4 linked regions of the Homo sapiens genome follow. The protein of the gene in region 3 interacts with the protein of the main gene of each other region in a biochemical or structural test. Each region holds a gene or a part of one and is shown on either strand. Other genes may lie near its edges.

Region 1 (7,771 bases), on a different chromosome or scaffold from region 3:
AACAATTATAGATGAACATTCTAAAGCAAGTAAACAACAATAAATTTTTAAATCATATAGTCATCCATCTATCCATCTTTATCTTCATGCACATAACATCCAGTGCTCAATAATATATAAAGGAAGGATATACTGGAACCATACTTTCTCCCTCAAATCTCTGATTTCCACATTGGTATATAATTTCTGTAATCCTCAATTTCTTAAGCTGGCAAATGTTTGGACGAGGGGATATGATCCTTTCAGCCACAGATTTGCACTTTTTTTTTTTCTCACTTTCCTTTCTCTGCTGTCCATTTAATTTGGACAAAGCATACAGTGAGTGAGGCTGAGTGCCACTCAAATCAGGTTATTCTCAGCCCTTTTTCTGATTTTTGTGAATTATTGTATATTTCCAAAATGACTTGAACATACAACTATCTTTTGAAGACAACCTGACAAGATTAACATTCATCGTTGGAAATTGTTGGAAGTACCTCCACGTAACTCTGCATACCCTTGCAGGTCCACATCACTTTTATGTGGGCATGAAACTTTTTTTTTCTTTCTTTCTTTTTTTTTTTTTTTAATTTGAGATGGAGTCTTAACACTGTTGCCCGGGCTGGAGTGCAATGGCGTGATCTCAGCTCACTGCAACCTCCGCCTCCTGGGTTCAAGCAATTATCCTGCCTCAGCCTGCCAAGTAGCTGGGATTACAGGTGCCCGCCACCATGCCCGGCTAATTTTTTGTATTTTTAGTAGAGACAGGGTTTCACTATGTTGGCCAGGCTGGTCTTGAACTCCTGACCTCGTGATCCGCCCACCTCAGCCTCCCAAAGTGCTGGGATTACAGGCGTGAGCCTAGGCCTAGGGCATGAAACTTTCTTACCCTTGCAGGTCCACATCACTTTTATGTGGAGTCTTCATTAGGGCATGAAACTTTCTTTACAAAGTGGTGCTCCCAGTCACTGCTAGAAGTCCCTTATTCTTGTCTTGTTAGCCAGGATTAAAATAATGAAAGCCCATTTCATGAATATAATTAATATAAGCTACTATTCACTTTCTATATCCTCTTTTCTTTTCCAAGATTAAAACATCCAGAAGAGATTAAAACCAGATTTTCCCAAATCCTTCAAGTTTTCTATGTTCAATTTCAAAGTTGCCAGAGATATACACCAGGTTTATTATAGATATTCTCTGTTTATTCATTCCCTTGTCATTCAGCAAAAGTGAGCAGCAGTTGGAAAACTGTTAGATTTCAGGTGCCTACAATAGAAATTGCAATAACCAACTCCATGGGAATTTTCTGTTTGCGATGGGGAGGTCCAGTAGATACACGATTTTTTTCTTCTTGTTTTTCTTTATTCACTCTTTTGCATTCAGTAATATTTCACCGTCTTAAAAGTAATGTTAATTCTCTAGGGCATCTTTAGAATTCCTTCTCCTGTTTCCTTATCAATTATTTCCAACACCCTACATAAATCTTTCATACTATTGATAAATCATAGTCTAACAAGAAGTTATTCATACTTTTTTTAAAATTCCTGTAAGTCTCATAACTGATAAGTACTTTAAGCTCTTTCTCTCTAGAGCTCTCATCTAATCTCACATTGAAATGCCTTCTGCACACTGAGAAGATTTCTAAATGTATTTCTGACCCTCTTCTCTTTTCTGGATGCTGGACCCATATATCCAGCTCTAGATGCTATTTCTAAGTTGAATATCTAGCAGCATATCAAACTCAACATGGTCAAAGTAGAAATCTTATTTCTCCCTGAACTTGCTCACTCTCTATCTTCTGTGTCAATTATTGGCACCACCATCAGTCCAATTGCTCAGAAACTTGGGAGTCTTTTGTGACACCCTTGTTCTCTCACTCCTTGTAAATCTCTGACTCATTCAGCAAGAACTTCCGCCAACATAGAGCCTGCAGTTTCCCATTTCTTAGCATCTCTTCTACAACCATAGGAGTCTAACCCGTGTTTCTAGACTCAAAAACAGCAATAGTCTCCTACCCAGTGTCTCCACTTTTACTCTTTTCTCTTATATTCCACACAAAATCCAGAGTAATCTTTTAAAACATGCTAATTAATCTTATTATTCCCTGCTTTAAAACCTTCCAATGGGTTGGTAGTGCACTGAGAATTGAAATAAAAACACTTTACCATGGCTTTCAAGACTCCTGGTAACCTGGTTTCTATTAGCTCTCTGACCTCATCTCACGCACTTGCCCCTCTTTTCCTATGCCTTGAAAATGTTAAATATATTTCTGTGTTAGAGTCTTTGCACTCTCTGTTACCTATGCCTACAATGTTATTCCCCTAGTTCTTCTGAAGTCTACCCTTTCTATCATCCAGATTTTGGCTCAAATGTAAACTTCTCAGTGAAGTCTTCTCTCATTCCCAGTCCAGAGCAGTGCCCATTTCTTCATCCCTCCTCCCACAAGTCACTGTCTTCGCCATTGGGTTTAAAAAATTCATTGCAATTATGAATATTAGAAATAATATCATTTGTGGTTTTACTCCATCCCCCCTCCCCTTTTCACTGTGATCTTTTTAGGGCAAGGACCACCTGTCTTCACAGCTGTGCAACTGGTGCCAGTACAGTGCCTGGAACAGAGAAGTCCTCAACATGCAGTTGTGATATCTATAAAACATGAATGTCTTCAGCGCTCTTGAATCTCAAGTGAAACTAGCTTTTTGTAAGTCTCTTGTAAACTGACCAGCAAGCTTTTTTTTGATAATAGAAAACTGTGGAATATTAACTTTATTCTGATTTCAAAGAAAATGAAGTATAGTTTCGGACATTTAAAAGAAAAAAACCTCCTTCAGAATTCAGAAAGGCATTTCATCAAGAAAAATTCCACCATTTTCCTAGATTAGCTGAGTCTAGAACATTAGGAAAATTACCTACCTGTATCAGGGATGAAGAGGACCACCTCATAAGTAACTATGCAGGGAAAATGTAAACACAGGTAGACCTTATCAAACCATCACATTCAGAGAATAAATTCAAGTCTCTTCAATGCAGTTGTGCAGCCTTGCAGTGTTTGGGGCTCCATTACTGACCCTGGGAACACGGTTCTAAAGGAAGCTACCTTGCAATATCTTGGGCCACAACCAGAAGTTAAGACAATAAATAAATAAATAAATAAATAAATAAATAAATAAATAAAACAGAACAAAATAAGCTATACAAAATACAAAATGTTTGTTTAGGTATGTTTGTGTGTACTTACGCAGAGGAAGGGGAAAGTCTAGGGAAGTGGCGAAGAGAGAGGCAAAGCTGACTACATTATCTGCGTGGCCCATTGCAAAATACAAATGTGAGACTCCTTGATTAAAAATTATGAAGAAGAACAAAACAGCGACAGTAGACTATTGTCCCAGAATATTAAACCAAACACGGGTCTTATGAGCTGTGGCCTATACAACTGCATAGTCGCACACCCATGAAGCCCACCCTGGTTGGAGGGGAGAATTATAATTCATCTCCAGCGAATGTAAAGCAATCCCCACCCTGCCAAAACAACAGTAAAAATAAACGGCGATCCAAATTAGGGCAGGTTGTGCCCAATCCTGATGGCTGTGCTTGTGATGACGGTGGCGGTGCTGAGGTGGACTTGGGGGCACTGCTCCTATATAACAGACTTTAGATTGATAGAGGAGAAGGAAAATAGTTTCTGAAGCTCCAAAGTAGAAACTTCAGGCGCAAAGAATAAGGTAAAGGAAAGGAGACCGCATCAGACCTCCCTCCTGCCCTTGGGCAGTCAATGCCTTTTCTTTCCAAAGCGACCCTCTCCTTAGATCACTGTGTATATCCGGTGCCTTAGGAGCTGGGGTGGAGTACGTAGGTTTGGCTGTAAGGGCGCGTCAGAGCGACAAAAAGGGTAGAGACAAGTTTAAACCCCTTTCTGTGGAGTGGCTTCCTACCCTCTTTGGCCACAAACCCCAGGGCTCCCAGAGGGGCCTGGATGTAAGTGGGTTCCAGATGACCCATCCTCCCTTGACCCTCCGAAGGTAAGACCCAAGGGGAACCGCTGTGATCAGCATTCTTGAATTCCTCAAAAGTCACCTCACTTGTAGAAGTGCGTAGTCCTCCAGCATTTGGAAGAGGTGGCAGGGACCTTGGGGCCCGGGAAGTTCGCGACCCCAGGAAGCGGGTCTGAGGCGGTGCACCCCATCCACTCCGTCCGCAGTCGGGGCGGGGCAGCGGGACCCGAGAGGACGGGAATCCCTGCAGGGAGGGAAGGGCCGCGCCTGCCGAGGCGGCTCCGAGCCCCGCCACTCGGTCCTATCCCGGCTCGCGGAGGCTCAGGCCCCGGGAACTGCGGGCGGAGGGGGCGGCGACCGGGCACCCTGCGGCCACTGCGGCCGCTGCTCCTGCGACTCCCGCGCCCGCCGGGTGGTGGCTCCCCAGTGCCCGCCCCCAGCTCCCCTTCCCCGCCCCTCACGCCCCCTTCCCGCCCCGGCCCCCGCCCGGCGCTCGGGCCGCGCCGACCCGTCGCCCCGTCCTTCCGAGCGCGCCAGGCGGCAGATTCTTGGCGGCGGCGGCGCCTCCCCAGTGCCGGCGGCCCCGAGCCGGCTGCCGCGTTCCGGGCCTCAGAGTCCTCCCGCCTCGGCCATTTTCCCTCCTCCCCATCTCCTCCCCTTAGTCCCCTCCCCTCCCGATCCTCATCCCCTTGCCCTCCCCCAGCCCAGGGACTTTTCCGGAAAGTTTTTATTTTCCGTCTGGGCTCTCGGAGAAAGAAGCTCCTGGCTCAGCGGCTGCAAAACTTTCCTGCTGCCGCGCCGCCAGCCCCCGCCCTCCGCTGCCCGGCCCTGCGCCCCGCCGAGCGATGAGCGCCCCTCCGGTCCTGCGGCCGCCCAGTCCGCTGCTGCCCGTGGCGGCGGCAGCTGCCGCAGCGGCCGCCGCACTGGTCCCAGGGTCCGGGCCCGGGCCCGCGCCGTTCTTGGCTCCTGTCGCGGCCCCGGTCGGGGGCATCTCGTTCCATCTGCAGATCGGCCTGAGCCGTGAGCCGGTGCTGCTGCTGCAGGACTCGTCCGGGGACTACAGCCTGGCGCACGTCCGCGAGATGGCTTGCTCCATTGTCGACCAGAAGGTAAGTCGCCGCACCGCTGCCAGCCCGGCGCCTCCCCGCGGCGCAGGGGGCGCTGCCCGGCTGGCCCTCTCCGCGCCAACTTTCCGGCTCCCGGGGCTCGGCTGGCCGCCAGCCTCGCCGGCGCTCTGGAAGCGGCTGGCCCCGCCGCGGCTGGACGCCTGCAACCCGAGGCGCTGCGCTCGCTGTTGCTCATCCTCCTCTCGCCCCATCTTCCTCTATTCACCGATTTCTCTCCAGTCCGCCGCCTCCTCACCCATTTCCATCCTTCTCATGACATTTCCAGGTATCTTGCCCTTTCCTCGCCGCGCCCCTCCTTGTCCTTGAGACTTCCCAGTTTTCTTCCCCTCTCTCCCCTACGGACCCTGGACCAGCGCATTCCTGGTGCAGGAATCCTCCTTCCTGCACCAGAGTGCCCCCGGAATGACCTGGAGACAAGGAATTTCTCACCTGTCAGATAAGCTTTTAAGAGAGTGTGATTGACTCGGCCAGTTGTCAAAACAACTGACCAGGAGTGCAGGTACCCAAGGCCTTGTCATCTTTTAGTTCCACTTCTGTATGAGCATGGAAACACATTTTCCAACGACAAAACCTGAAAGTTGCGACCTTCCTATTTTTCATTCCCGGGATGCTGATAGTAGGACGTTGAAGTGGTGGGGGTGATGTCCAGGAACACCCCGAGGCTGGCTGTGTCCTTAAGTTTGAGGCTGTGGGGCTCTGGACAGCGGCCACTGAAGGCAGGTTAGAAGGGTCATTATCCGGGGCCAGGCCACCCCCAGAGGAGACTCAGCCCACCCACCACTGTTTACAGTAGCAATTTGGATTTTCAGGTTGCCTCTGGAGCCATCCAGATGGATGTTGCATGGAAGGGGGTGATACAGACGTGAGGCAGAGGGGGCCATGGCGCCAGTCTTCTTAGTGTAAACAGCCAGCGTTTCAGGAGTGGAGACAGAGGTCTCTAAAGGTGCTGAATTTTTCAGCCCTGGAGGACTGGCTAGCACTCCTTTTGCTTTCTAATTATCACTTGAATAATCATGAATTGCTTTCTTTAAATTATTTGTAACAGAGTTTGCTAAATCTTAAGGGTTGTGAATTGCAGCACTGAGCACAGGAATGTTAAAAGCTCCAGGTGGAAAAAAATCACTGATCTAGAAAGTTGTGAAAGTTCTAGACTAAGGTAACAATGAGTGCCAGGAATTTATTTATGGAAATTTACTTTTATATTACGGGTAATGTCAACTGTTTGCAACTTCCAAGAAAATGACACGTTTTGTCTAATGCTGATGTAAGTCATATCATGCTCCTTTTCCACATCAGTATTGTGGAATGTCTATTGTGGGTCAGCAGGAGCACTCCTAGGCACTGTGAAAGCCTTGTATACAATCCTCTCCATTTGGATGCAGACCAGTTAATGAAACAGCAATGCTTCATAAGCACGTATACAATGTAAAACAAAATTTCTCAAAAAGCAAAGGTAATTCTGTACAATTTTAACTTTTCTAAATTCTAAAGCAAGTGAAGTAGTGTCAGAGAATATTCAAATTGGGTCAAAGTAATATTGATAGACTTTGTTTTGACCAGCTTGAATTCTCCCTCCACCCCGCCCCCCACTTCCTCCTGGAGTTCAGAATGGGGAGACTGATGCCTAGTTCAAGAGGTTTGGTAGTGGGATTTTAAATGGAGGGTGAATTCCAGGTGTCTCAGAAGCTACCAAGGGGCGTGTTACATGGAGAGAGTGAGACGAGAGCAGAGGGAGAGGGACAGCAAGCACCTATGGAATGCAGCAGGCCTGCAGGTGGTGGCCTGGGTATTTAAGGGAAGTACAGTTATGAAAAGGCCTTGAATTAAACTCAAATTGCTAGAAGCCTCAGTAATCTTTTCATAGCGACATCATACCAAGGACATCTGAAAGATGGATTTGCTGTATGGAGGTTTTAGAATGCCAAAAATGTTATGGCAGAAAGAGCACCGAAGTTCAGTCATGAGCTAGTTGGAACATGAGTCAAGACTTGGGGGAGAGACTGGGAGAAATACTGGAAAGGGAAAATCATCAGCCCTGATTGGTGACTGATTTATAAGGGGAATCCTTTCCTTTTGTATTTATTCTAGTAGTTTCTTCTCTCTCTCAAAGAAGTTTGAAAAGTTTGACTGTTTGGAATAGTTAAGGTAAAGATCTCACTTTTTTTTTAGGTTATAAAAAAGTTGGGGTTAGATTTATAGATGTGAACTTGAGGGTTATTTATATACAGAATACTGTAAATAAATATATACTGGATAGTGTTTCTGGACAGAGGACTTTTTCAATTTCTCTGTCATTTGTCATCTCTTTCAGAATATATTATTATCCCAGCAGAAACAAAATTAAGAGAGCTGAAGGTCCATCACAGGATACAGGATCTCTGTGTGTTGTGACAGTAGGAATGGCAGAGTGTCAGTGTGGAGTTAAGGAAGTGGGAGGGAGTTCTTTTGTCTTTTATTTCAGTTTTTTTTTGGAAGTACCTTATGAGGACGTCAGCTATGAGGAAGGATGACAGGAGTTTGGGGATTGGATGTTTCAGGAGAGAGCAGAGGGTTTGAAATCATTTACAATTTACTATGTGGGCTGAAGTCGTGTGGAACTTACAGCAGAAGGTTCTCCTGATCTTTCTGAGTCTTCCACATCTGTTGTTTTAAATGTGTTAAGAAGTTTTTCAT
Region 2 (7,676 bases), on a different chromosome or scaffold from region 3:
TGTATCAAAATGCAAAATGCACATACTTTTTTGACTCTGGAAATGATGCTTGTATAGAGATCCTAATAACATGGGAAAATAATTAGGAATAATGTTAAATAAGAACATTAGATCTTTTTTTGGAAAAAGGTACCTTGAACGGATGGATGGATGGATAGATACATACATACATGCATACATACATACATAGATGTTACGAAAAATAGGTAAATTAACTGAATGTGCAATATGATCTCAAATATTATAAGAAACACACACAGAAAAAAATGGAAGGAATATGCCGATATATTAATGCCTCTGGATGAGTTTATGAATGATTTTTTCTTTTTTATATCCCTGTACTTGACATATTTTCTACAATAAGCATGTTTTATTTTACTATATTTTGTTTTATTTTGAGATGGGGGTCTCCCTATGTTTCTCAGGCTGACCTTGAACTCTTGGGCTCAAGCAATCCTCCAATATCAGCCTCCTGAGTAGCTGGGACTACAGGTGCACCCCACTGCACCCAGCTGCGTGTGTTATTTTGATATCGATGGAAAAAATAAATAAAATGTTTAAGCCAAGGAAAACAAAAACTAGGTTGAAAAAGAAGGCCAAAAGGGCACACAAGTCCAGAGTGAAAGACAGACACCCCAGCAGTCACCCTCAGAGCAGAGGGAGAATATTGAAAGTATTACCACTGATCTGATCTGGCACTGACTATAAACTTGCAGATTGGCTCTCTGGCTCTCCTTCCATCATCAGTTGGCCAGAATATATTGTCGCTAATGCAAGACAAAAAGAGATGATGAATCACAGAGACCTAGAAGTTTCCAAAACCACAGAAGAAAAATGTAAAATGCTAAAAACATAAGGCCAGGCGCGGTGGCTCAAGCCTGTAATCCCAGCATTTTGGGAGGCCGAGGCAGGTGTCATGGTGTGCGGCTGTAGTCCAAGCTACTCAGGAGGCTGAGGCAAGAGAATTGCTTGAAACTGGGAGGTAGCGATTGCAGTGAGCCAAGATTGCGCTACTGTACCGAAGCCTGGATGACAGAGCGAGACTCTGTCTCAAAAATAAATAAATAAATAAATAAATAAATAAAACATGAACTGCTGTGGAAGAACCAGAGAGCCCTAAGGCCTCCTGTAAATGACTACAGCAGGAGAGTTTCCCTGGTCAGCATGCAGCTTTCGAAAATTGAGTTTGGCTTGATGCCTTCATCACAAATTTGGTCCCCTGTAGCCTTGACTATGAAGCTTATCATAAAATAATTGGGTTTCACTGGGGCCCGAACAAAAGCATCTTGGGAATTTAACAAGATTAAAGGTTGCTTTGTTGCTGTGGGTATGATTTTTTTTTCTTTTTTCTTTTTTTTTTTTTTTGAGACGGAGTCTGACTCTGTCACCCAGGCTGGAGTGCAGTGGCACGATCTCGGCTCACTGCAACCTCCGCCTCCTGGGTTCAAGCAATTCTCCTGCCTCAGCCTCCTGAGTAACTGGGATTACAGGTGCGCGCCACCACGCCAGGCTAATTTTTGTATTTTTAGTAGAGACAGGGTTTCTCCATGTTGGTCAGGCTGGCTGCTCTCAAACTCCTGACCTTGCCATCCAGCCGCCTCAGCCTCCCAAAGTGCTGGGATTACAGGCATGAGCTACCACACGTGGCCATATGTAAATTTTAAACATGTAAACCAATACTGTATATCTTTTATAGATATTTACATCTGTAATGATAATATGAAAACGTACCTAGGAATGATAAACACCAAATTCAAGATATTGGTAATCTCTAAGGAGGGAGAAGACTAAGATTTTGGAGTACATAAAGGGGTCTTGATTATATAGATAGTATTTCAGTTCTTAACACGTTCTCTTCTGGTCCCAAGGCCAAGGAATTCTCAATTGAAATCTCAGTTAGAACGTGAAGGATGCTTCTTGGGACTGGGAAGAGATTTTCCGTAGGCCAAATTTAACCTCCCACTAGAGATAGTTGATAATTCTACCACATTTCATAGTGAAGCATCAGGAAGACAGGACTGAAAAGGCAAGAAGGAATGATGCAAATTGCATAGTCCAAAAGATAAGCTGGACCTAGGTTTGCCAGTTTGTCTAAGTAACTGAGAATTCATTCTGAGATCAAAAAATCAAAATAATGTTCACAGCAGCATTGTTTATCACTGAAAGCAAACAACCTAAATGTCCATCAACAGGAGAATGAATAAATATATTGGAATGTATTCATCATATAGAATATTTTATGCATATAAAAATGAATTAAAACATATGAAGTAGAACTAGCCAGATAAATAAATCCTAACATATTATATTGAGGGGAAAAAAGCAAGTTGCTGGAGAATGTGTACCATATATATATATATAAATTTTCTTTTTTTTTTTTTTTTTTTTTCGCGACCGAGTTTCACTCTTGTTGCCCAGGCTGGAGTGCAATGGCAAGATCTCGGCTCACTGCAACCTCTGCCTCCCGGGTTCAAGGGATTCTCCCGCCTCAGCCTCCTGAGTAGCTGGGAGAGTAGCGTTGGCCCAGCTAGTTTTTGTATTTTTAGTAGAGACAGGGTTTCTCCATGTTGGTCAGGCTGGCTGCTCTCAAACTCCTGACCTTGTCATCCACCCGCCTCAGCCTCCCAAAGTGCTGGGATTACAGGCCTGAGTTACCGCACCTGGCCATATGTAAATTTTAAACATGTAAACCAATACTATATATCTTTTATAGATACTTACATCTGTAATAATAATATGAAAACATACCTAGGAATGATAAACACCAAACTCAAGATATTGGTAATCTCTATGGAGGGAGAAGACTAAGATTTTGGAGTACATAAAGGGGTCTTGATTATATAGATTGTATCTCACTTCTTAACACGTGAGGCAATATGGCACAATTTTAGGATTTTGTAGAGCTAAGCGGTGAGTCCAAGATTGTAATGTTATAGTCCCTGTACTTTCTATTTGAAATATTTCATAATATAAAACAAAGTATATTTGAGGCCAGGTGCAGCAGCTCATGCCTGTAATCCCCACACTTTGGAAGGCTGAGACAAGAAGATCACTTGCATCCAGGAGTTTGAGACTAGCCTAGGCAACAAAGTGAGACCCGTGTCTCTACAAAAAAATTAAAAATTAGCTGGGTGTGGTAGTGCACACCTGTAGTCCCAGCTACTTGAGAGGCTGAGGCAGGAGGATCGCTTGAGCCCAGGAGGTGGAGGCTGCAGTGAGTGGTGATCTTGCTACTGCACTCCATCCTGGGTGACAGAGTGAGACCCTGTCTCAAAAAAATAGAAGGTATATTTGATCAAAGTTTTATATTCACAGTAAGCAATAAGAACCCTAGGGACAGAGAAGGGTGGATGTTCCACCTAAACACTGTGCTTTCATTCCATCAACAATGAAACATCCAGGAAAGGAAACAACAAGTGACTCTAGAAATTCACTAGTTAGACAGAATCTCCTTGGGAATGATTTAAAGAGGGAAAATGTAAGAAAACCTGGCAAGACTAAGAAGAGTCCTCAAGTGCAAAAAAAGTATAGTTGACAGTTACCAGAGACAGATCATCCTTACCAGCCTGGAGGAATATTGCAGAGGAAAGAGCTTAGGATCTTGAATACTCTCTTATCTCCTGTATTTACCACCATTTCCTCTCTTGCTGAACATTCCTAGAAAATGGAGAGGAGTTTGTCACAACTGCTCTTTGATGATAGCCATGGAGAATGACAGGGGCCCCAAGGCAGATGGCATCAACCTCATCAAAGACCAAAAAACAAATAAACGAACAAAAATCCCTCCGGTAGGCAGTGAAACACCACAAAAAAAGCAAGGGCTATAGATGATATACCAAGAGCTACAGATGGATGAGGTTGGACAAGTCACATAACCTCTGTGTCAGTTTCCTCATCTGTTTGTTGTGAGGAATAAATGAAATAATGCCTGTAAAATGCCTGTCAGGTAGAAGTCACTGAAAGGAACAGAAGTTCCATTCCATCCCCCTAAGGAAAGACAGGGAATGGCCAGAATCTTCCTAGCCAATTGAGTAGTGCTTTCAAGGAGAAATCAAGAGAAAACACTACTTCTTGGATATTTTGGCTAAGTAGTCATTTGAAGTACAGTTGACTGGTTATTTTATTTTAAATCATATCTCATAGACTCTTCCCAATCATAGGCTGGCTGTGTAGTTTTCTGAATTTTGCTCTGGTATTCTTCTTCTTTTTTTTTTTTATTTTTATTTTTTATTTTTTTTTTGAGACTCCAGGCTGGAGTGCAGTGTCACGATCTTGGCTCACTGCAACCTCCGCCTCCCGAGTTCAAGCGATTCTCCTGCCTCAGCCTCCTGAGTTGCTGGGACTACAGGCGCCTGTCACCACGCCCGGCTAATTTTTTGTATTTTAATAGAGACGGGATTTCACCATGTTGGCCAGGCTGGTCTCTAACTCCTGACCTCAAGTGATCCGCCAGCCTCAGCCTCCCAAAGTGCTGGGATTACGGGCATGAGCCACTGCGCCTGGACTTATTATTCTTAATAGTATTTTATCTTATGAGCGAAGATAAGAGCCCAAGATGGTTTAGTTTACTGATTCTGCAAGTGCTATTTCTATTAATTCCTTGGCATACTGCAGTTTGTATGATGGCTGCACTCTTGTTAATAAGCTTCGTCTTTCTGAATTCTGTTGCTCCATAGGGAGCTGGGAGGCTGCAAAAGGTGGCCCTGTAAAAATCTTTGCATTTATAATTTAATAAAGGGGACATTGTAACACTGGAACTCCATATTTTAAATGAAGAGCTCTGTGTCTATTTTTTCTCCTCCCCCATTTCTTTCTTTCTATAAACAACAGTGGTGTGTGTGTGTGTGTGTGTGTGTGTGTGTGTGTGTCTGTATGTTTGAGACATTCAAGTCACTTCCATTTCCACCCTTCACCCTGAGTGGAGCTCAGGGTTAGCCATCATTGTGCATATTTTGTGGTCAAACCGACTCTGTAGGCTACTGAAATTGTTTTAAAAAAATTGGGGCCTTTACTGGCCAGGCACGGTGGCTCATACCTGTAATTCCAGCACTTTGGGAGGCCAAGGTAGGCAGGTCACCTGAGGTCAGGAGTTCAAGACCAGCCTGGCCAACATGGGGAAACCCCACCTCTACTAAAAATACAAAAATTAGCCAGGTGTGGTGGCACACGCCTGTAATCCCGGCTACTTGGGAGGCCGAGGCAGGAGAATTGCTTGAACCCAGGAGATGGAGGTTGCAGTGAGCCAAGATCGTGCCACTGCACTCCAGCCTGGGCAACAAAGCAAGATTCCGTCTCAAAAAAAAAAAAAAAAAATGGGGCCTTTCACAATAAGTACCCACAGAAGCTTTACCCTCTAACTACTTTTTAACTCAGAGCTGTGTGTTACACACCAACCTTCTGGAGGACTCAAAAATGGATCCCTTTCCTTTCACATTATTGAGTGATGGACCAGTGGCACCTAAGGAAGAGCTACCACATTTTCAGGCTGTGTGAGTCTGGACTGGATCATAAGAAACAGGAGAAAAGCAGTCAAAGAAGGTGGTACCAAATCATGGCAATTCTGGTAGACCTCTAGCTCAATGATCTAGAGGTGGAGGCCATTTCACCTTTTGCTCAGAGGGGCGATGGCTAGTGAGAGACTTGCTTACTTCCTCATAGTCAGAGCAGCACTAAACCCTGCCCAAACACAGATACTTGAGAGAGAGGAAGACTTCCTCTTGTACAAACTGGATTTGTTCTAAAACAGAGAAAGAGTAGAGGCAGCTTCCAGAAGGACCTGTCTTATAGGAAGTAAGAGCAGGGGACAAGAATGAAACAGATGGTGGGTCTAAGCAGGGAATGTATCCACCAAGAGCCTGCAACAAAACTAAAGATAAAATGTTGCCTGCGATTTATTCGGCTAAGAGAAGTACACCAGACATGGTTTGTTGGGATGCTTCTGACCCCATTTACTGGTCACAGTACTCAATTTATTTAGGGTTTTATTTTTTATCCTGTAATTTGAGTCTTTGATTGTGAAGAGGTACTTAATTATAATTTGCCACAAGAATAATTGTGGTATGATTACAGGGCTCTCAATGAGTTGGTAGTTCCTGAGAATAGAGTAGTATTATTTGGTTACCACTACTCCTGAGTAAATGCATAATTGTAATGTTAAAATGAACCTCTTTGAGTTTAGAGCTAAAACTGAGTGTTGGGAAGGGCTGATTGTAAACTCATCAATTTGTCACTCCAGTGAGAGACCATTTAAACCAGGGAGTCAGGGTGTGTGGCAGGGTGGAGGGAAAGGTTTGCACTCTTGCCCAATTTTTCTCAAAATCTAATTTACAAAATATTGAATTAATCCACCTCCAGAAGATAGTGGCATACACATGGTAGATAAGTGGCAAAGCGATCTTCCAGAACACCCCTGGTGTTCCTTTGACGTATTTTCGTCTCCCCAGCATGAGAATAGAACCTCCTACACCACAGGAAAGAGCAAAATAACAGTGTGGATAGCCCCCAGGCTTTGATAAAATTCACTCCCTTGCTTTCCTAGTGTGAGCAATAATCTGCTTAAAAAGTAGAAAAAAACTGCTGGCTTTATTCATTCTGCTTCCACGGTGCCACCAAAAGCATAAGGAGTTTACTTAAAAAATAGACACATTCCCACCCCCACCCCCCCACCAGAGGAAAAATCCCTACCACTAATTAAACTTGAATGGAGGGCTGGTGGTTTTTTCGTTACTTACTTAGTGTTTTTTTGTTGTTGTTTTTGATTTTGTTTTTTGAGACGGAGTTTCGCTCTTGTTGCCCCGACTGGAGTATAATGGCACAATCTCGGCTCACTGCAACCTCCGCCTCCTGGGTTCAAGCGATTCTCCTGCCTCAGCCTCCCGAGTAGCTGGGATTACAGGCATCCACCACTACGCCCGGCTATTTTTGTATTTTTAGTAGAGACGGGGTTTTGCCATGTTGGCCAGGTTGGTCTTGAACTGTTGACCTCAGGTGATCCGCCAGCCTCGGCCTCCCAAAGTGCTGGGATTACAGATGTGAGCCACCGCGCCGGCCTAGTGTTCTATTTTTATGACAGCATTTGTTTTCACTTTATCTTTCCAATGAAAGTTCGGAATTAGTAATAATATTACACTGTGCATAAACTGTAAGTGAATAACTGATATGAAGTGTTGCTTGGTGTGAATAAAAAAGCCAGTGGTGACTTTGGGAACTTTATTTGTCTTTCTGTGTTTCAGTTACCTAAATTGAATCCTTCTGGAGTATTGTAGGTTTGGGGAGGCTAAATAAGTTGTGTTTCATAAATGAACAGAGGTGGCATCTATATCAGTAAGACAGTTGCATCACTTTTGCATGATGCTGTCTAAAAGAACTAATTTAAGCTAAATGGGGAAAAGGTCAGAAAACAACAACTACCCCCCCCCCACCAAAACCCACCAAAAAAAATTATGTTTTCAACTTTAGAACAAATCTTCTATCCTTTGTAGCTCAGTCAGTGGGTGTGGGCAAAATCAGTTGGGCAGCAGTTAGTGTGTGTCCAGAACTGCAGGTGCAGCCTCCATATCCTTATTAGTTCCCTTGGTTACAGACCCCAGTGGGACAATGTTTGAAAAATTATATTCACCGTCTAGGAAATTGGGAACTGAAAGTCCAATATCTGCCTCAGTGGAGTTCTGGCACCT
Region 3 (7,511 bases):
CGACAAATAATAGTTTTCATTACTATTGTTTCTTCAGTCATAAAAAGGTAATACATTTTAACTCCAAAATTCATGTTTGAGCTTCATTATCACTTGTTACCACTTCTCCAAAGAAATCATTATTGCTAAAGTTACTAATGACTTCCAAATTACCAAACACTTTTAGATATTTTCAATTCTTACTTGCCTTCCCTGCTTTTATGTCTTTAAAACCTCATTCCCTTAAGGAGTCTAAAAGAGATCCAGGAAGGGCAGGAAGTCGCAGAAACATTTAAGCATGGGCTCTCTCTCTTAACCACTTCTTCCTAGGGCATTATCGCTTCCCCTGTCCTTCAAACTGGGCTTCTCTGAAATAATCCTCAGTCCTCTACTTCATATTGTTCCTGATAGTTTCAATCCTTTTCATGCTTTTAACTCTACCGTACACATGATTATAAATCCCCAAATCTGTCTCTTGCTCACATATTTGCCCTAAACTCCAGGCCCATATTTCCAATGCCTATTGTACTTCTTATCTATGCATTCAAAAACTGCTTAAAGAAGGGGAAGAAAGCAAAGGAAATAAGCATTTAAAGACCTAATACATACGGAATGCTTTACATCAGACCAGTCAAGTAAACCACCTAAATCATACCACCAAGAAAAGAGGGAGTCAGACTTCAAATACAGATCTGTTTAATGATGAGGTCCGTGCTATTTCTGCTACGTTACACTGTCTTCTTCAGCGCATCCATAGTAGGTCACAAGGCATTGGGAATACAAAAATAATTAGGACCTAAATATTTTAGATAAAATAAAATACAGGTTCATGGATAATACTCAGGTGGATGCATAGCTAGTTTAACATATGTACTAACTGAACAAAACTTATGATCTATTACACAGTTCCTATTATCAAAGGGTCACAGTTTGGTAGAAGAGAGTAATTTTATTTAGGCAAGTAACTAAAACATATCATAATTATAAACCTATGGTCAAGATAAAACAAGTGACACATAGGAACGGGGAGTGCAGAAGAGGGGTCCAGGTAAGACTTTCTACAGGAGATAAACTATGTATAAACTAAGACTTAAAAGATGAGTACTGGCCAGGCACAGTGGCTCATGCCTGTAGTCCCAACACTTTGTTAGGCTGAGGCAGGCAAATCACTTGAGCCCAGGACTTTGAAATCAGCCTGGGCAACATGGTGAAAGCCATCGCTACAAAAAAAAATACAAAAATTAGGCGTAGTGGCACATCCCTGTAGTCCCAACTACTCTGGAGGCTGAGGTGGGAGGATCACTTAAAACTGGTCAGTCAAGGCTGCAGAGAGCCAAGATCATGCAACTGCACTCCAGCCTGAGCGACTGAGCGAGACTCCTTCTAAAAAAAAAAAGAGTACCATATGTGTTGGCCTGATAAATTCTGGGTGAGAGCACATTTGAAGCAGAAGGGATAGTAAATATAAAAGAACTAGAATCATCTTGGTCCATTCCAAAATTTCTAAATAATTCAGAAGACAGAAAGAAGTGAGGCCTAACATACACACAAGGATAGACAGGATTTTGAACAGCCTTATGTGCCTTTTCTTAGAGATTTAAAAAAAAAAGGGCAGGCAATCCAAAGACATACTTAGGATCTTGAATTGACAAGATGTGGTGGTAATTCCCAGGTTTCTGGCTTGGAGAACAGATAGGGAAACTAGAAAGAAGAGTAAGGGGTCAATACTTTGGAAGTGAGTAAAGCAAAACAAAATTAAACAACGGAAAAAACACACAAAAATTATAGGTGAAATTTTGTTTTATACATTATACACAGTGCTCTACATAAATATAATCCTTATTATTGCCCCTGTAAATATGATCACTTTCATTTTCTGATGAGGAGATTCATGTGAAAGTTTAAAAAGCCTACCTAAAATAATACCGACAGAAAAGTGCTCTTGATCCCACCTATTCTATGCTACCAAACTGCTCTCCCAAAAGGCAGTTAGAAAAATTTCAATGCAAGTAGTATAGTGTAGTAGAAAAAAGTACCATGGAATTCAATTCAAAATAATTGAATTCAAAAGCAGTTTGGTAGGGCAGCTGGAGACTCAAGCGATTCTGCCTCAGCCTCCCGAGTAGCTGGGATTACAGGCACACATCACCATGCCTGGCTGATTTTTTTGTATTTTTGGTAGAGACGGGGTTTCACCAAGTTGGCCTCGAACTCCTGACCTCAAGTGATCCGCCCACCTTGGCCTCCCAGACTGCTGGGATTACAGGCATCTTTTTTTTTTTTTTTTTTTTTGAGATGGTGCCACACTCAGTCGCCCAGGATGGAGTGCAGCGGCGCGATCTCGGCTCACTGCAACCTCCACCTCCCGGGTTCAAGCAATTCTCAGCCTCCCCAGTAGCTGGGATTACAGGCGTGAGCCACCGCGCCCGGCCTAAAAAATTTCTTGAAGTAAACTCTGGTTTGACTAAAGCTTCTGCAAATATTTGCAAATGTAATTATTTTTAGAAACCAGTTTTGTCCTCATCTACCTTGCCTCAATTTCTAAAACAAATAAAAGTTAAGGAATTCAAAATACAAAAAGAGAAATGATCAAGAGGGGGCTGGCAAGCCTGTGAATTTACACCACTTTATGGGCACTGAAACACTACTACTCATAAAAGTCATATCCTTTCAGTATTTCTGATAAATTTCAAATGGCCTACTTCGAGGCATAAGTTAAAAGGTGCTACATGAATCTCTGGCTAACACAGTCAAGTTTTATGAACTACGTTGGAAAACAGGAGTCAAGGACGGCCTATGTTACCTAATTCGCAGCTGAACTAAAACTCTTTGAGCCAGACAGCTCTGCCTGTTACAAAAACAAAGGGCCTGTCTTCTCTGTCTCTCTCAACCCTCCACCCTCCAAAAAGAATCAGTTCCTTTTTACATAGCAATCAATGTCCACTTATCAGATTTCACGACCTGCTTCCCCAGAGTCAGTATCCCCAGGGTGGACTCAAACTTGTGACTCCAGGAAGGGGATAAGGAACATGAGCGCCCACAGGAATGGCTTCAAATCCAAGACTCGAAGGAAAGTGACACTACATAACTATCACAACTAGGAATGCAATGTCGCTGGAGGGCGTGTCCAGCAGGACGGGAGCGTAGCGCATCGCCGGGACAGGCCATTCATTAGCTGAGGGGGGCGGTAGGGACCCTGGCCACTCGGCCCTCTCCGCGCCGCCTCGCGCGAAGCCCGGCAGCCTCGGGGCCACAGAGTCCCCTCCCCACGGTCCCCCCGCGCCGCCGTCCGCAGCCACCCGCACCCTCCAGAAGGCGAATACTCTCCCCCTGCCCCCGGGCTGAAGGGAAGCCGCACCGCACGGTCGGGCAGCGCCAAGCCCTCCCTCACCAGTCGCTAGATGAAACTGCGCCGGTGGATTCCGCAGGGTCCACATAGAGCCACAAAGGGACTCATCCTCAGTGAAGGCAATAAGAGAAACCGAACGGCGCCAGAGGGGCCAGTCCCCAGACCCGGGTCAGTTCGGCAGGCGGCTGCAATACAGCCGCTACTACAGGAATCGGGAACGGGGATGTAGAGGAAGGGCCCGAGCGGGCGGTTCCCAGTAATAAGGCGGGCGCTGGTTGGCTGGGGCTCCTGTATGTCTCTTGATGATTGGCTGGTGCCTGCCCAGAAGGTTTCGCGTGGCAGCACCTCTGCCATGGCCTTTTCCCTGGCGCCCCAAAGGAACTTGACCTCGCCGGCCTTGGGGCCGCTGACTCAGGCCAGGGGCGGGGAAAAGAAAAAGGCCGCAGCGGGGAACTCTAGGCCAACAACGGTGATGGGAGTGTCCCTTTCAGGCCAGCCATCTCGTAGTTAGAAACGTCTCTCTAGGTAGCTGGAGACTCGCGGGGGAGGCTAAACCCGAGTGGAGAAGGAGACCTGGCAGGATGCCTTGGACACCCGGTCGCTACGCAGCAGAAGCCAAGTGCATAGGCGTCCTGCACAGAAGAGTTTCCTCCCATGGCCTTAGCAGTGGGGTTACTGCAAAGCCAAAGGTGTAGTCTCCGTAAACCCAGCCTCACCCCTCTCTGGATCTCCATACACCCGGATTATCTGGCAGTCACTCCCTTGGTCAGAAGGCGTCACTGCCCTCTTAGATCACCACCGTAGGACTAGCTGCCGACCCGGGTCACGCCACTCACTGCCTGACACCAGGCTTACACTAGGCTTTTTCCACTTGAACTCTGAATCTAAAGGCCATTTAGAAAGTGGTCAAGTGAAAAATGCTAGGAGGGACAGTAGCCAATAATCAATACTAGGTTACTGAATGGGAAACACACTGCTGCTGAATGCCTAATACGGTAAGCACTCAGTAAATGATTGTTCAAGGAGGTGTAGTGTGACTCAAAACAAACGACACTAAGAATCATGAGTTGGCTGTACAGCTCTGCCACGTTGAGTTTTACAAGCCACTGAGTCGACCTCATCTAATCTCTAAAAGAAAGGAGTTGCGCATGTCTTAATGCCCACTGAGCTCTGCTTGCTCTCTTTTGAAGCCTTTTTTGTGGGAGGGTAGGTTACTAGCCCAAAGCCACACAGCTGCTTAGCGAAAGAGAAAGGGAGACTAGGACCCAGCCCTCCTACTGCCCTTCCCAGCACATAATTGTTTCTTTGCTCTTTATTCTTAATGTCCTTCTACAAAACAAAAACCAGTTTGTAATGTCAAAATTGAGTGGTTTTGAAAATAAGCTTAAGTTGGCCGGGCGCGGTGGCTCACGCCTGTAATCCCAGCAATGTGGGAGGCCGAGGCGGGCGGATCACGAGGTCAGGAGATCGAGACCATCCTGGCTAACACGGTAAAACCCCACCTCTACTAAAAAAATACAAAAAATTAGCTGGGCGTGGTGGCAAGTGCCTGTAGTCCCAGCTGCTGGGGAGGCTGAGGCAGGAGAATGGCGTGAACCCGGGAGGCGGAGCTTGAAGTGAGCCCAGATCGAGCCACTGCACTCCAGCCTGGGTGACAGTGAGACTCCGTCTCAAAAAAAAAAAAAAAAAAGAAAGAAAATAAGCTTAAGTTGTATCTCCAGATATTTAAAAAAAGAAGCTACATATAATGACTTTCATATTCATGAACAAAGAAGCCAATAATGGCAAATAAAGCTGCTAGTGTAAATAAATGCATTGACCTGAGTTCGTAACTTCTCTCTCTTGTATCTGGGCAAGTTAATTCACTTTTCTGAAGCCTCAGTTTCCTCATTTGCAAAATGGGAGAAATAATGTATTTTGGGGTTGTGAAAATGTAATGATAGAGATATATAGCACTTAGCAGAGAGCCTTAGTCACACACAATAATACTTCATAAATAGTGCTAATGAATAAAGTATTTCCTTAGTGGCTGAATTAGTCCAAGCAGGCATTCATTAATTTAAAAGTTACGGCCAGGCAAGGTGAGTCACACCTGTAATACCAGCACTTTGGGAGGCAGAGGCAGGTGGATCATTTGAGCCCAGGATTTCAAGACCAGCCTGGACAACATGGTGAAACCCCGCCTTTACTAAAAATTAAAAAAAAAATTAGGCATGGTGGCGCACGCCTGTGATTCCAGCTACTCAGGAAGCTGAAGTGGGAGAATACCCTGAGCCCTAGGAGATCAAGGCTGCAGTGAGTCAAGATCACGCCGCTGCAACGAGTCAAGATAACGCCACTGCACTCCAGCCTAGGCAACCGGAGTGAGATCCTGTCTCAAAAAATAGTAATAAATAAAAGTTAAAATTACCAGGTCTCGGACAATTTGTGGTAAGCATTGGGGATCCAACAGTGAACAAAAATACATGTAGACCCAGATATTCCCAAGCATAATAAATTGCAACGTTTATAAGTATTAATCTGATAGATTTATCTGACTTCCAAAAGATGTGACACATGAACTAAAGACTGAGCAGAAGATAACTCAGATAACTAGATAACGAGGAGATAAGTAGATGAAGCAGGAAAGAAATAACATTCCAGTCAAAGGAATGTAGAATTGCTCCCCTTTTCCCAGGAAAGTTAGATGCTTTCAAAAGTACTTACTGGTTATTTGCAAGACAAAATATTAAAATAATTAGGAAATAGTACAAATGAAATACAATTAAATGAAAAATATATTGTAGATGTGGTTAAGGGAGGAAGAAATCAAAATGAGCCATTTTGTTTGATTTTTAAAAAAATTTTGTGTTTACACATGAAAGAATAGGTCAAAATATATCTACAATGATTGTTTCTATGGTGGGATTATGGGTGATTCTTAATTTCTATCATTTTGACTTTTGTAATTTTCATTGCAATAATTTAAATATTACTTGAATGATTAAAAAAATCAAAGTTTGGAAAAATAATTGACTAGAGTTTCTAAAGTAGTTTTATTTTTTAAAGTAAAAAATAAAAAAACCAGAGATGACTTTAAAAGATTGCAGTGATGGGCCAGGCACAGTGGCTCATGCCTGTAATCCCAGGAGGCCGAGGCAGGCAGATCACGAGGTCAGCAGATCGAGACCATCCTGGCTAACACGGTGAAACCCCATCTCTACTAAAGAATACAAAAAAAATTAGCCGGGCGCAGTGGCGGGCACCTGTAGTCCCAGCTACTCGGGAGGCTGAGGCAGGAGAATGGCGTGAACCTGGGAGGTGGAGATTGCAGTGGGCCAAGATAGCGCCACTGCACTCCGGCCTGGGTGAAAGAGCGAGACTCTGTCTCAATAAATAAATAAATAAATAAAAAGATTGCAGTGATGGGCGGAGGGAGTAGAAAAAGAATAGTACAGGCATCAAGAGTGGAGCACTGCAGAAATATTTCTAAGCCACATGGCATCTATAATAAACTCCCTAAATACCATTTTTCCAAAATAAATTGGTAGTACTATCCTTTATAATTAAAAGTACTGACATCATTATGTGTATTTTGCTGTCTTTCAAGTTGTATAGGAGTAGGAAATGACAGTGCTGGTGGCAGAAGAGAAAACACTAGAATTTGATTAGAAACCCAAACCTGATTAGGTTCTACAAGAATGATTTTTAGAGGAAGATCAATAGTGCAGCTGGCCTAGAGATGACTGGAACCTTATTGTTTAGCCTCATTCTCTTCTACTCCACACCATCTTCTACAGGACATCACTGGTTGACTACAACTTTCTGGCACACAAATTAAGTACCTCACATAAATCACATATCTCACCTCAGGTTTGCCATTAGGGAAGATAGCACTGAGCCTATTATCTCAAGCACAAAAGTTCTAGGCACCTGACGGACTCATGTCGGCTTGGATTAGGTGAGGAATCAAGGATAACATGATTGACATCCTCTATTAGAGTCATGGTTAAAGCAGAGTGAAGAGTAGTTCCCCAAAAGAAAGCAGGGTGAGGCAGACAAAACAATAGGCCACATAGGGTGTTTGTGTTCTTCTGGATTCAGGTGTATGGTCCCAGCTGCGTTCTTCCTATAGAATCATTATCTTTCCAATCCTTACTTACAGAGGGTCACCTCCCCACATATCTGTGAAGACTTTCCGGAT
Region 4 (7,676 bases), on a different chromosome or scaffold from region 3:
TTCTCCTGCCTCAGCCTCCCGAGTAGCTGGGATTACAGGCGCCCACCACCATGCCCAGCTAATAATTTTCTTGTATTTTTAGTAGAGACGGGGTTTCACCATGTTAGCCAGGATGGTCTCGATCTCCTGACCTCATGATCTGCCTGCCTCAGCCTCCCAAAGTGCTGGGATTACAGGCAAGAGCCACCGCGCCGAGCTGCTACTTCTTTATTTACATGCATGAGCTTCCCTGATCATCATAATAACCCAATGAGGTGAGTATACTATTTTTCCCATTTGAATAAAAAGGCAATGAACACTCAGAGAAGTTGAGGAACAGTAAGGACTCCAGAGAGGAAGTGGTAGAGTCAGTAAGAGCTGGGTGCAGACTCCACCTCTGCCTAGCTCTAAAACTTGGGCTTTTAAGAAAAATGGGAGTGCATTTCACACGTGGTTTTCTCAGGAATTTTTGTGGCCTGGCTTTGTCAGGAGAGGTTTATGGAGGGTGAGGAAATTGAGCCAAGGCTTGACATTTGTGTAAGATTAGGATGGGAGGAAAGAAAGGGCAGTGAGGTTTTGGTTCACACTGATAATAACATCAATAACGGCTTCCGTGTACTGAGTATGACAACATCATATGCGTTCAGGCTCCGTGCTAAAGGCTTCCCGGCCATTACCCATTACTCTTTAAACTTTGCAACAATACTCTAAGGCCTCAGCAACTATTATCCCCCATTTTCCAGGTAAAGGATGTGGGTGCAGAGAAGTAAAGTCATCTGCCTAAGGTCAAACAGCTAAGGAGCAGGGCAAGGCTTTGAACAGCTCTGCCTGGCTCAGGACTCTTATAGCTTTATGTTCAGTCTCAGCTGTTCAGTGTCTGCTGGTTTTCACCCTAAGGTCCTGTCTATTTGGGCTTCTGTTTGCTTCAAGTTTGTTCAAAGTGGGAATAGCCATCTGAGTAAGGTTTTACTAATTTTTTTTTTTTAGTAGAAAATCGGGCCTTTAAGGGAATGGACATATAAAGGACACTGCTTCAATTAAACAGGTGACTGTTTTCAAAAGCTCAACTGAATTTCTGTCTAAGCAGGAGGATGCCAAGCAAAGAAAAGGTACTGCAAAAACATCCAGCATTAATTCGGAGTCTCTGCCCAGTTCCCGCACTCTGCTCTAATGTGCCCGAAGCCATGTAGACAGCTGGATTTAATCACTGTTCCAATCTCTGATCACCTCCCAGACGTATCCCCTGGGGCTCGCTGTTCCAGAGGAAGCATTTGGCTGTTTGCTTGAGCATCACTCGTTTTTGGAGTACCCTCCTTGAAGGAAGAGCCCCATTGGACTCAGCCCACTCAATTAATAATGGTCCCCAAACTCAATAGTAAGAGAGTCACCCCAGTTAATCATGAAGGTTATGGGTCCTGAATTAATAGAAAACGGCTCTACCAGGGAAACTGCTAATTGGAGCAGGAGCTGAAGGCAGCTGACCTGGAAAATGCTCTTTCCTCCATGACCCATTTAGAACCCCCAGCTGTCCAGGCAGGGCGGGCGTGTGAAGGGGAGGACCCTGTGGATGTATTAAACACCTACTATGTGCCCACATCATGCAAGGAGCTTTCTCTTATGTTATCTCATTTAATGCTCTCAAAAACTCTTTTCAATGAGTACTACTATTCCATTTTTTAAAATAAACAGAAGCCCAGAGATGCAAAGGAAGTGGCTTAAGATCTTGCACCTAGGCTGGGTGCAGTGGCCCATGCCTGTAATCCCAGCACTTTGGGAGGCAGAGGCAGGAGGATCCCTTGAGCCTGGGAGATCAAGGCTGCAGTGAGCCATGATCACTCCACGGCACTCTAGCCTGGGCGACAGAGCGAGACATTGATAAAACAAAACAAAACAAAACAAAACAAAACAAAACAAAACAAAAACACCTTGTGCCTAGAAAGTAGAAGGGTCAAGATTTGCAAAGGGTCCCTTGATCTCCAAAATCCCCTACTTTAAAAGTTGCAATTCCAGGGGATGCAAACTCAAATGCCAAGAGGAACCTGGCAGATAACACAATAGCGTCAGCACTAGTAATAGTAATAATAACTTCCAAGGGGCTTGGAGCAGAGTGCCAGCCTCTATTCTAAGTGATTTACAGTATTCAGCTGTTTAGTCATCAAAGAACCCAATGTGGAGTGCTATTATTATCCCCAATCTGCAGATGCCGTCAAACAACTTCCCCAAGGTCCTGCGGCAATTAATGCCTGAACCAGGATTTGAACTTGGAGAGAATTGGCCAAATGAGAACGTCTGAGAATTACAGAGGGCAAGCTCCAACTACAGAGGGCCATGGTTTCCAATCCAGCTGACTGGTGCTTTGTAAGAATGACAGGCCAATGTGGCAAGATCTGATTTTTCAAGAGAAACCTGAAAGCTGAATGTTTTTGAGAAATCTCTGGATCCTTATATGCTGGTAATTATTAAACAAACTAAAAGCTCCAGGTACCACCTTCTCTCTACCCGCCCCCACCCTTCAATAACTTGTCTACGGGGGCCTGTGGAGGCCTTCGTGTGTGCCTTTTTTTTCTTTATGGGCTTTGCTTGGGTTCCTAATGCACCTCTGGGACTCCCCTCTCTATTCTTCACTTTCTTTCTCCCTGCCTCACACCCTCAAAGAAAATATTTTCAAGCAATTCACTTTAGATGTTCGGGATTGAGACTAATTCACAGGTGGTTTCCCCAGGGATACATGCATCTTAGCCTATGCAGCTGAGGTGCAAACCTTAGGTGATTCATTGAGAGTGGGAATTTAGGCAGTGTGACAAGGCGCTTTTAGGCTGAGAGGCTGGCCCAGCTATTCCAAACTGGGCCAAGCCTCAGATTGGCCTGCCTGAGTTTCCCAGCTTTCCTTCACCCAAGACAGTGCATCCAGCATCTGGCTGGGGTCAGGAAGAACAAAGTAGGGCATGAAAAGTCTGCAAGCATCCCACAGATCTAGGACTGGCAGCCCTGGTTTATTCAGACACACAGGTGGGAACCCACTGATTAAGGCACGGCCATGTTCTAACCTGTACCACTGGGTGGAGGGAGAGCAAATCCTTTATTAGTATATTATGTGTAGAACATATTTTCTGGGCGTCTAATTCTATTGCTTTCAGGCTTCCATCAGAGTTGAAAAATCACTTCATTTGGACAGTATTTTTAAAGGCAGTGGTCTGCAAGCCAAATGGAGACTTTTCCAAAATACTCATACCCAGACTTAATCTCTGGGGTAAGGCAGAAGCATGTGCATTCTGGTAAGGCACTTCGGGTTATTCTGATGGCTCCAAAGGTGAGGGTCGCTGATCTTTAGGATCTCACAGAAGTCACTGTGAGTATGCCCTGGTCCAACACAAGATGCAAAACAAACAATCCTTCCCCATAAACACACATCCTGCTTTCTTCACAGGTGCCCTGTGCATAAACCGTAGATGTCCAAGCGTGCATGCCCTTTTAGCCATTTGTGTGTGTGTCTGGGGAGAGGAGACAGTGGGATTTTGAGTACATTGAATTTCAGTCTGCTTATCTAGAGAATTCCTTAACCTCAACACGGCGTGGTATTTTTTAGAACAAAAGTTGCACGCTCTTAGTATTAACTAAACACATACAGCAGAGCAGGGCAAGATAGCCTGAGTTGTGCAAAAGACCTCTTGTGCCCTTTCCCATGACTTCCAGCTCTTTGACAAAATCTCTGTGCTTTCTACCTCATTCATTCAATAAGCATTCCCCTGTGCTGGTTCAGAGACTGCAGCCCAGCCAGCAGCAAGACGCAGCTGCAGGCAGCTCTCTACAGCACTTCTGTGCAAATCAGAAAAAAAGCTCTCTCTCCTCCGGGAGGTAGCAGCTCCACATCAGGGTTCTCATATTGGCAAATGGAGTGAAGGGTGGAGTTCAGGCTGTGTTCCCCCCTGGTGGGGTGTTCTTGGGCAAGGTACAGCCCACATGCCTTTATGTGGTGGTCCTGGTCACAGCTTTAAGAGATGCACTTACCCCTTTGCAGATGGCCACAGCTTCCTTGGACATAGACTTGGGATAGGCTACGTTGTGTTCCATGATGGATTGGAAGAGTTCATCTTCATCCTCCCCTTCAAAGGGTGCCTGTATGACAGGGGAGGGTGGGAGGAGAAGAATCCCTGCTTGAACCCTCCCCCTAGCTCCCCTCAACTGGCAGACCCTCCTCCCTGGGGCCCACAGTGAAGCCACACACCCAGGCTTTCAAATGACCACAGACTTGTATGACCCCAAGGCCGGGAAAGTCATAGAGGTTCCAATTTATGAGCTGTTACCAAACATGCATTCTCCTAAAGAAACCATGTGGATGGGGGTAGGGAGGACTTCTCTTATCGATCACTTAAAATTCAATTACCTGCCCAGCCAACATTTCATACAGCAGGACTCCAAATGCCCACCAATCCACGGACTTCCCATAGGGCTGATAAGCAATTATCTAGAAAAGAGAAGGCACCCTATCAGGGAGGTTTGCAGTTCATGTTTCTTCTGGAGACAGATTTCACTCTTCTTTTACAAGAAGGCCAGTGCCCACCTGAACTGTTTCTTTATATTAGCTATTCAGGGAATGACAGACATGCTTTGCAGAGGCACCTGCAGCTGGGCAAACACCTGTGGCTGTCACATTGCCTTTTCGAAGCACTAAGTAAGGTGTATTGTTATTATTATTTTCAAAACAGTGAGCATGGAATTTTTAAAAGGAAAAACTGTCTTTACTCCTCTGTAAAAGTTACAACATTTACACAATAATGTAAATATACTTAACACTACTAAATTGTATACTTAGAACTGGTTAAAATAGTAAATTTTACGTTACATGTTTTTAAAACATAATTAAACATAAAAACGTTTAAGAGATAACAACATTTGTCACTATTTTAATATTTCTTTATAAAAGATAGCTCAGCTGAGATAATAACATGAAAATCACCCATAATCCTTTATTAAGAGAAAAATTATGACTAATATTTGGTCTACTTCATTCCATACTCTTTTCTCTGAATACATATTAAACTCTGTGTGTATGTGTGTGCTTTACATAAACACTTTAGTATTTGGACGATTTTTTTTCTTTTTTTCTTTTCTTTTTTTTTTGAGATAGTGTCTCTTTTTGTCACCCAGGCTGGAGTGCAGTGGTGAGATCATAGCTCACAGCTCACAGCCTTGGCCTCCTGGGCTCAAGCAATCCTCGCACCTCAGCCTCCTGTGTAGTTGGGACTACAGGTGCTCACCACCATGCTAATTATTTAATTTTTTGTAGGGATGGGGTCTCTCTATATTGCCCAGACTGATCTCAAACTCAAGCAAAGCTCCCATCTTGGCCTCCCAAAGCACTGGGATTATGGGCAATAGATCTTTAATAAAGCCAGTTATTCACTTAAGTTTTCCTTGCTAATTTAATATTTGTATATGAACATAATCAATTTTTATCTGTGCATAGCATTCCGTTGAATGGATATACCAAAATCTATCTTATAAATTTCCAGTTGATTAGGTTTCTTCCAATGCTGTAACATATATTCTTGTAATTAGACATTTGGACATCTGTCCAAGTATTTCCTTAAGATAAACTCCTAGATGTAGAATTGGTGTATCATATGGTATATATGGTTGTGAAGTTTTTAATTCATATTCCCAAACTGCAAGAACATGGAAAAGTCTAGAAGAGCTATGTGATTGTCCATCTTTCAGTATGCAGGGATGTAAAACTAACCATGTCAGAGGTTAAGAGGTAATACAGCAAAGGCTAAAGGCTGAGGTCTGAGGGTTAGGCAGTCTGACTTTGAATCCTGACTGCTGTCTACCGGTTGGCTGTCTGACCACAGGAGAAGTTACTTAACTTCTATAATCTCTATATCATGAAGTTATGTGAGGATGAATGAGATACTCGGTGGCTTTCACATATTATGCCCTCAAAATGTTAACTAATCCTAGAATGTTTTATAATTCAGTTATTGCTTGTTTAACTCAAAAAGGGTATTTGAGCAAACTTGGCTATAAAGTGAATGTTTGTTTCTTGATCTCTATCTCCCACTTTGATTTCTATTCCAAAATCAGAAATGCAGAGATGTTGATTACAGGATACAAAATTTCAGTTAAGTAGCAGGAATAAATTCAAGAGACTTATCGTGTAACACAGTAACCATAGTTAATAACAATCTATTGTATTCTTGAAAATTGCTAAGAGGGATTTTTAAGTGTTTTTACCATAAAAAAATAAGTATGTGAGACAATAAATATGTTAATTAACTCAACTTAGCCATTCCACAATGTATGCATATTTCAGAACAACATGTTGCACATGATAAATGTATACAATTTTACTGGTCAATTATGAATGAATGAAATGCATTCTGAGAAGTAACCCTCAAGACAAGGAAGGGAAAGCATTCCAGGAGAACACTTCTCATTGAACGTGTTTTCCACTTTGGGAGGCCGAGGCGGGCGGATCACGAGGTCAGGAGATCGCGACCATCCTGGCTAACACGGTGAAACCCCGTCTCTACTAAAAAAATACAAAAAAAATTAGCTGGGCGTGGTGATGGGCACCTGTAGTCCCAGCTACTCGGGAGGCTGAGGCAGGAGAATGGCATGAATCCAGGAGGCAGAGCTTGCAGTGAGTAGACAGAGTGAGACCCTGTCTCAAACACACACACACACACACACACACACACAAGAAACAATGTGGGATGCCCAAGCATCATCCCATTAGAATCTCTGCAGGTGGAGGCCCAGGATCTGTGGTTCTCAGAAGTTCCTCGCTGGTCGTGATTCAGGCAAGCACAAGAAACCCTCAACTGTGTGGCTGGTGAAGTTGCCTCCCCTCCAGCCCACAGATGGGAGGGATAAGCAGCAGGTCAGGCTTTGTCATGAGCTAACCACATCACCTTCGGCAACTGCTGTCACATCCCAGGCTCTAGTTTCCTTTGTAAAAGGATTAACTTGTTGGCTTGTCATGAGGATCAAATAAGACTTGAAGTACTTTAAAAGTGTGGAAACACTTTCTTTCTTTCTTTCTTTCTTTTTTTGAGACAGAGTCTCGCTCAGTCGCCCAGGGTGGGGTGCAGTGGCATGATCACTGCTTACTGCAGCCTCTACCTGCTGGGCTCAAGTGATCCTCCCACCTTAGCCTCCTGAGTAGTCAGGACAGCAGGGGTGACCTAGTGCACCTGGCGAATTTTTAATTTTTTTTGTAGAGATTAGGGTCTCACTATGTTGTCCAGTCTGGTCTCAAACTTCTACCCTCAAGCGATCTTCTTGCCTCAGGCTCCCAAAGTGCTGAGATTACAGGAGTGAGCCACCATGCCCCAGCTGCATCCTACATTGTAAAAGCTCCCTCACGACTCTAAACTGCAGTTAGAGTTGAGAACCAGAGATTATGGAACCCCTGGCCTATCAGGAAGTTGTGTTATGGATTGTGTCCTATCTAATTAATTAACAAAATGATAATAGACCAAAGCATATCACATAGGGAAAACTTCACTGGGTCCGAGTAAAGCCTTATTATTTTTAAAGAATTACTTTATTACTCAAGTAATACCCAAATACATTTACCTTGTAAAAAATGTCAGCAGTATACAGAAATAGCTAAATTTCTCTTTACAATTCCCTTATCCTCAGAGGTAACCAGTGTTATAAAATCAGTTTGAAATCTTCCAGATTTTTGTATG

What was found.
Region 1: of the proteins of IBTK (region 3) and PRKD1, one has a biochemical effect on the other in vitro, tested with the Homo sapiens proteins (one study listed by BioGRID).
Region 2: the proteins of IBTK (region 3) and BTK form a complex in vitro, tested with the Homo sapiens proteins (2 studies listed by BioGRID).
Region 4: of the proteins of IBTK (region 3) and PRKCB, one has a biochemical effect on the other in vitro, tested with the Homo sapiens proteins (one study listed by BioGRID).

The regions. Positions count from the first base shown.
Region 1 is NC_000014.9:29,924,558-29,932,328, reverse strand, and holds the start of PRKD1 (serine/threonine-protein kinase D1), read left to right. Parts: upstream 1-4,481; 5' UTR 4,482-4,816; coding exon 4,817-5,080; intron 5,081-5,232; exon of another isoform or gene 5,233-5,363; intron 5,364-7,771.
Region 2 is NC_000023.11:101,375,721-101,383,396, reverse strand, and holds part of BTK (tyrosine-protein kinase BTK), read left to right. Parts: intron 1-5,373; exon of another isoform or gene 5,374-5,538; intron 5,539-7,676. UniProt on the Homo sapiens protein: Non-receptor tyrosine kinase indispensable for B lymphocyte development, differentiation and signaling. Binding of antigen to the B-cell antigen receptor (BCR) triggers signaling that ultimately leads to B-cell activation.
Region 3 is NC_000006.12:82,244,192-82,251,702, forward strand, and holds the start of IBTK (inhibitor of Bruton tyrosine kinase), read right to left. Parts: upstream 3,554-7,511; 5' UTR 3,371-3,553; intron 1-3,370. UniProt on the Homo sapiens protein: Acts as an inhibitor of BTK tyrosine kinase activity, thereby playing a role in B-cell development. Down-regulates BTK kinase activity, leading to interference with BTK-mediated calcium mobilization and NF-kappa-B-driven transcription.
Region 4 is NC_000016.10:24,181,879-24,189,554, reverse strand, and holds part of PRKCB (protein kinase C beta type), read right to left. Parts: intron 4,445-7,676; coding exon 4,364-4,444; intron 4,096-4,363; coding exon 3,988-4,095; intron 1-3,987. UniProt on the Homo sapiens protein: Calcium-activated, phospholipid- and diacylglycerol (DAG)-dependent serine/threonine-protein kinase involved in various cellular processes such as regulation of the B-cell receptor (BCR) signalosome, oxidative stress-induced apoptosis, androgen receptor-dependent transcription regulation, insulin signaling and endothelial cells proliferation.